Linked DNA regions of Homo sapiens. The protein of the gene in region 1 purifies or fractionates together with the protein of each later gene. This does not show direct contact. Each region holds a gene or a part of one and is shown on either strand. Other genes may lie near its edges.

Evidence for each region. Proteins that work in one complex are often made in the same cells at the same time.
Region 2: the proteins of ZEB1 (region 1) and USP54 purify together in Homo sapiens (affinity purification with western blotting; 2 studies listed by BioGRID, with this or other methods). This does not show direct contact.

What each region holds. Positions count from the first base shown.
Region 1 is NC_000010.11:31,322,216-31,325,715, reverse strand, and holds part of ZEB1 (zinc finger E-box-binding homeobox 1), read right to left. Parts: intron 1-3,500. UniProt on the Homo sapiens protein: Acts as a transcriptional repressor. Inhibits interleukin-2 (IL-2) gene expression. Enhances or represses the promoter activity of the ATP1A1 gene depending on the quantity of cDNA and on the cell type.
Region 2 is NC_000010.11:73,514,843-73,518,342, forward strand, and holds part of USP54 (ubiquitin carboxyl-terminal hydrolase 54), read right to left. Parts: intron 2,906-3,500; coding exon 1,533-2,905; intron 1-1,532.

The sequences.
Region 1 (3,500 bases):
TAATTTATAAATTTATCTTCCATTCACATTTAATTTTAAATCTGAATGGGGGAGGGGAAGGGAGAGGGAGGGAATTAAGAGATCACAAAACATCTGTTATGAATAATTTCAGCACAGATGTAGTTGTTACTGCAAAAGAGATGAAGGTTTTCCCAGGTTGCCATACTGTAAGGTTTTCTACAAACATAGTTCATACCTCAACCTCCATGTACCAAGTCTCAATAAATACATAATGTTGATTAGGAGGAGAAATGTGCATATGGACAGATAAATGCAATCCCTATGTATAGAGGGAACGTGTATTAAACAACAGGGAGCTGTTTGAAGAAAGAGAAAAGTAACTTTGTAGAGAATGAAAAAAGCTTAAAGTTTCACAGCTATAATACAAATAGACACTTGAATTCAATTTTTTGCTTTTCCTTTCATAATCTTTCCATTTATCTACATCCATATTATATAATCCAAAAATATGCTTTAACAAAATTAATGAAGTTCTAAAAATTAAGTTGTTTTCTCTGAAAACAATCATAAAGCAAATTTTACTTATTAGAGAGCATTTTGCTACTTAAGTACTGTATTATATTGCCATCTTTTTAAGCAACCCAGTTTTAAGTTAACAGCGTAACCCACCTCCATCAAGGCTAAAATCCAGACATGCTCATAACATATTGAAATTTTTATTTAGTAAAACTAATGTCCTAAAGATGTTTCCTTTAGTGACATAATACTCAAAACACTGCCCCATGCAAAAGAATGATTAGTTTATATGGCAATGCCTACATAATAGATCAAATTTAATTTTAACTAGGGTTGCTACAAAACTTTCTCTACTACATATATTTCTACTTGCTTACTACTTTTAGTTCATATCTAGTTGAATGATTATTTAGCCAGTAATATGTACAACATCTACCCTTTAAAAAGTAGTTTAAAAAATCATTTTATCATATTTCCTAATCAGGACACTTTTTCTAGTTTAAAATTTTTTGAGTTTTCTTTCAACAATGGACTTTTATTTTAGCTTATATCTCAATTAGAAATAAAGAGCATGCATTTCCACATAAATTAGTGACTGTACTGCAAAGAAACCTTTTTCAATCCTATTTCTACAGCTTCAAGTTTTCTAACCTCTCGCTGTACTCTTGCACACTAATGCATATCTTCTTCCAACATCTGCATGATTTTTCTCCTCCTCTGCTGCAATTCAATACAGGTAGTTAAGAGTAGCTAACAATATAATTCCACATGATACTGCATCTGTGTTTACATCTGGCTCTAACCACATGCTTAAAAGTGATTTATACAGGTAAATCCACAAGAGGATAAAGCAAAAGAAAAACACAACTATGAGAAATCATTATGCTCTTATTTTAAAAATATCATTCTCAATTTAACAGAAGTTTCTCAGCACATGCTTCAAAAGCTACTACATAGGAGGTATGCCATTTCAAACATACTAGAGACTAGAGAAAGGAAGAAAACAGTATTAAACAAATATTTCACATGCTTTTTATATCAGGGTCATCTTCATAAACGATTAATATTTTCAATTTATAAGATACTTTAAGTTTTGCTCCATGCTACAATGTATCTCGTGACTTTGTGGCAAAGTTTCTGAGTTCATAAACATTTAAGTGAATCACACCTATTCACTACTGAGCCCTCAGGAATTAGAATACTAAATTCAAGAAATACCTGTCAGGAAATGAAAAACTATTTACACACACACACACACACACACACACACACACGAAGAACCATGACATCCTAAAATAAGAAATTAACACAGGCTTACCTGGCAATTCAATACCTACTTAGTTCAAGATAAACAGTATGGCTATTCCATTACGGTACTGATATTGATGCATTTATAAAAACACCACTAAAAATAATTAAGGAAATAAATACTTCTAATGTTCTACCTAATGAGAGGCTTAAAATTTACAGTTATATTAATATACCTATAAGAACACAAAATGAAAAGACATAACTAAATACAGTCTCATGCAATTATTTATATGCAATTTATATAGTTTCTTGAAAGGAATTATTTAAATACAAGCATACAGCAACGTACGAACTACAGAGTTTTACTGCATATAAGATCTCAAAGCAAACTTATATTCCTTAATTACAACTGACAAATTTAAAACGTATGCACTCACTGATTCTTAACTAAAAAGGTGGGGGAGGGCTACCAGTAGGAAAAGACCTGAAGGGGAAGGAAAAGATAAAATCTAAAAATCACTAACATCTAAGTGACTGCTAGTTACCACCTCCGTTAGTAGCTCTCTGCCAACCCATCCATAGTCTAAGTCTACATAAGTTATATAAAAATAATTACACAGTATTATCAATCAATTGTAATTTTCCTTGCTACTCTTAAACTTTGACCATTTTAGATGTATTTTAACATCTAAAATATATATTTTAAGGGATCTTACTATGAATTTTAAAAAGGGGTGATTAAAAAGTATTCTAAATATGCAACATAAATATGGGTCAATTATTACATATTCTTCTCCAAACCTAAGAACATAAAACAAAATCTTTTTAAAATAAGGAGTAATACAACTGCTCTAAAACAAGAATGAATTAACAGCAATCTCAATTAGAGACTTAAATAACTCAAATTTATAAAATTATTCAAGTTAAAACAGTCCTGCTTCTTTCTAGTTTCGGCAAACTAGAAAATGCTTATGCCTAATTTAACCAAGGCTAGTTTTAAGTAACAATAAGACTCAGAATTATACTGAAGGTCCCAATCAGCACAGTCGATAGAGAGACTTATGATGCTACCACACCAATAATCATTTTTGTTAGCATCCTCTACTGGTGGTTTCCAATGACAGCAAGGGGAAATGGTGCTGATGACAGAAGGATATGTACCTTCTATTCCATCTAAAGAGAATTAATCAGCATGTGGTCATTAGTAGAGTACATCTCTCTCTCAAAAAAAAAAAAGGTAGAACAAGAAGAAAACCACATAGAAGAAAGCAGAAAAAGAAAAAGACAGATTTTTTAAAATGCAACAAAGCATGAAATTATAAATGGTAAAAACTAATTCAAGCAATTCTAATGTCACTCCTTTACGGATGACTAACATCATTAAGTTACCACACAAGGTTTGATGCTTTGGCCAAACCTTACTCAATTGGTTTACCCCTGTCAGTTACATTACCTGATACTCCTTTTAATATCCTACCTTCAGACATATTCCAGAAAGGAAATTAAAATATTTTACAGAAGGCTTAGCAGCAAAATCCACGTATCTTATTTCAAAATGAATAAAACATTATTTACATATATAACAACATAAACTATCTCTACGACAATCTTCCACTGTATATATCACATATTTCTTCATTAAAAAGATTTGAGAGTTAACGTTTTGCCAGGCAATTTTCTCCAATAAACATCTGCAACTTAAATATGACTGCACTGCTAAGAAATATTAACCAGCACATATACTGAGGTTTCACAACACAATGGAATATAAC
Region 2 (3,500 bases), about 42 Mb from region 1:
CAGCCTGGCCAACGTGGTGAAACCCTGTCTCTACTAAAAATACAAGAGTTAGCCAGGTGTGGTGGTGGACGCCTGTAATCTCAGCTACTTGGGAGGCTGAGGCAGGAGAATCACTTGAACCCGGGAGGCGGAGGTTGCAGTGAGCTGAGATCACGCCATTGCACTCCAGCCTGGGCAACAGGAGTGCAACTCTTCTCAGAAAAAAAAAAAAATGAATAAAAAATCAAATCTTATATTTATGTGGTATTCCCCTCAAAGGCTCTGGAGAACACAGTAAGTACTCAATAAACACTTACTCAACTGTAATTATATGTTGGTTGTCAGCATGCAAGGAACCTGCACCATTACAGAAACTGTCACAGCCAAGCTAAGGAAAAGTTCTCCAAGTTCAATTTCACAGAATCATACATGCCATTTTAGAGTTAGAACATATCTTTTTTTAAAAAAAAAGCCAGTTCTCTCATTTTACAGGTAAAACCTTGGCCCTGGGATATTAAGTGACTTGTCCAAATTTATACTGAGAGTTAATGTTGGAATCAGGAAAATAGTTCAGGCTTTGGAGTTAAGTGCATCAATGTAAGTTACAAACATTCTTCATGTCTTCAATTTCCAGAACTGACTATGATGTGCACTTCAGGTGCAGGCTCTACTCTTCACTCTGTATTATCTCAGTCAGTGGCTACCCTGTAGGCATATAGTACATTAAAAATTCCTTGAACACCAAACTTGACTTTTCCTAAAGGGATCAGGAAGGTCTTGATATTGCTGGTTCAGTATGATCTGGAAATGTCCACACTGAGCATATGGACATCCTACTGCAAAGCAGACCTGGAGGCTGAATCTTGGGATTCTAAGCCATAGAAGAATATATTTTCCTCTCAGCCTCCCTCCATTTCATGCTGTCATGCTGAATCACTCTCAAACACCTATGAACCATTCTTTTTTTTTTTTTTTTTTTGAAACGGAGTCTCATTCTGTTACCCAGGTTGGAGTGCAGTGGTGCGATCTCAGCTCACTGTAACCTCTGCCTCCCGAATTCAAGTGATTTCCCTGCCTCAGCCTCCCGAGTAGCTGGGACTACAGGCAAGTACCACCACGCCCGGCTAATTTTCTGTATTTTTAGTAGAGAAGGGGTTTCACTATGTTGGCCAGGATGGTCTCGATCTCCTGACCTTGTGATCTGCCCGCCTCGACCTCCCAAAGTGCTGGGATTACAGGAGTGAGCCACCGTGCCCGGCCCTGAACCATTCTTTAGCACAGCATACTGGAGAAGCCATGGGCAAATACTTAGTAATCTCTTACTTTAGAAGGAGGGAAGTTGCCTATGAGTGGTAATTCTGCCCCTTCCTCCACTCTAGCCAGAAAAATGTCTAGGTCTTGTCCTGAAGGCTTTCTGAGTAAAGTCAAAAGTTCTATTACCTCCTACTAAGCTGGGGATAGTATCTGTATAGAACACTCCCTTCTGATCTTTCCCTGCTTTCAGCTTTTATATGATCCTCCCCCCTCCCCCCAACCCCTGGTTGCATTCTTACCTGTTTGGCTAAGTGGGTGCCAGGCGGTATCCTGCTGCCCCCATCCAGAACAGCCAGCTTGAGAAGCCTGAAGACTGGCCTGATACAGAGACTCCAATTCTGAGGTCTCCTGCTCTGTGTCTTGGTTCCAATGTGGATGCAAAAGGATGTGATTTCTCTCTGGATAGGTTACACACGTATGGGAATCATGAGGGGAGGACTTCATTCCTGGCCTAGGTGCCCCATGCTTAAGCTGAGAATCACAGAACCTTGTGATATTCACCCAGGAATCCAAAGGCAAGGAAGTCCCCAAGTCAGTACTGCTGCCCAGATCCTTAGACCTAACATCTCTCACTTGGGACAGCTTCTCTTGGTATATGTCTGGCTCTGCCAACCTGGGCTGTCCTCCGCTAGAAGTTTCACCATTAGGCAGCCCAGAGTTTAAGGCAAGAGAAGAATGTTCAGTGGACTCTTCCCAGGAAAGTGGTCTATCCCCACCCTCCAGAGAGGATTGTTGCTTTGCCCATGGCCAGTGGCCTTTCTCTTGACCCTGTGAGAAAGGAGGCTTAGAATCAGAAGGGGAAGAGTTCTTCCTTAGACTACCTGACAAACTTCTATCCTTGAAACCTGTACTATCCCTCATGGAGACACCCTGCATCCTCTGGAACTGCTCAGCCAGAGAACGGACAAGCCCCTTTGTGCTGGGAAACTCTGGCCTATAGGTCTCCTCACTGCCTCTGTCCACTTTTAAAGTCAATGAAGTTTTGAGGCTTTGGCCTTGGAGGCATTGGTTAGTTTTCTGCACAGGATCAGGACAGTGAAGCACAAATGAAGAAGCAACAGGCATTATGGGGTGGCAGGTTCTATACAGGGGAAGGCTGGGCTGAGCTGATGAATTTGAAGGACTACAGCCTAGGCTGTGTTCATCACCCCTCTCAGAGGTGGCTATTCCAGGCATCACCGGGGAGGGGTTAGCAGGATCCTTCTTTTCTTGGAACAGCTGTTCTTGAGCAATGCCTCTTCCTTCTTGTGGAGGGAGCTTGCTGCAACTGCTGTTGTCACACCTAGAGCCTTGCAGCTTACCCTCTGGGGCATCCAATGGCTCCCAACTATGATGAGAATTCTTCTCAGTCCACCCTGGTGCTTTAGGTAAACCTTGCCTGTGGAATGCAGAGGGTTCAATGTTGTCTACTTCAACCGAAGTCAGAAGCTTCAAGGCAGATCTACTGGGGGAGCTGTGCTGTGGGGCAGATGACTCTGGAGATAGTGATGAGTGTGACTCATGGCAGGAAGCAGGTGAATGGAAGAAAGAACTGGCCCCAAACTCTGTATCCATGCCGGATTCCAGTTGGGCCTCTTGGCTTAACAATACTTGGAGCGGGATAGGCTGTTCACTGAAACAAATGGAGAGAGCTAGTCATAAGCTGCCTTGACTGACAGGAACACTTACAGAAAGAACTCAACATTCCATTCCCATTTCTAGCTATTCACACAGGGAATGGTAAAAATAAACAGAAAGACAAGCACAAGTAGAGTCAGTAGTTCAGAGGATCACAAAAGAAAAGGCACATGGTCAGCTCACACTCAGGTAAATAGGTAACGTTAATCCTCTTTATTAAACACCCTCACCAAAGTTGCACAGTAACATTAAGTGGAGCCCTTGCCAATATTCTTCACTACCTGTGAAGTCGCATTCCAATCACATTCTACTTGCAAATTAGGAAACAAAATCAGCTAGTCTCACATGCAGATGACATGGAAGGTAAGCAAAGCCTGAAAATCACTCATACCAAACAGCAAAAATCCAGGATGCTATACAGGGAGGCAAGTCCTACCTGGGGTCCTGAGAGGCAGCCCGGCCAAAGGAACTATGAGGCCACATTTACAAAATACAGGGTGATTTGGGCTCATGGGAATACACAGAAATTAACCATTTCAAATATGTTTTTATAATCTGGATTTTGTTCTATTAGTCACTGAGATGTTTCC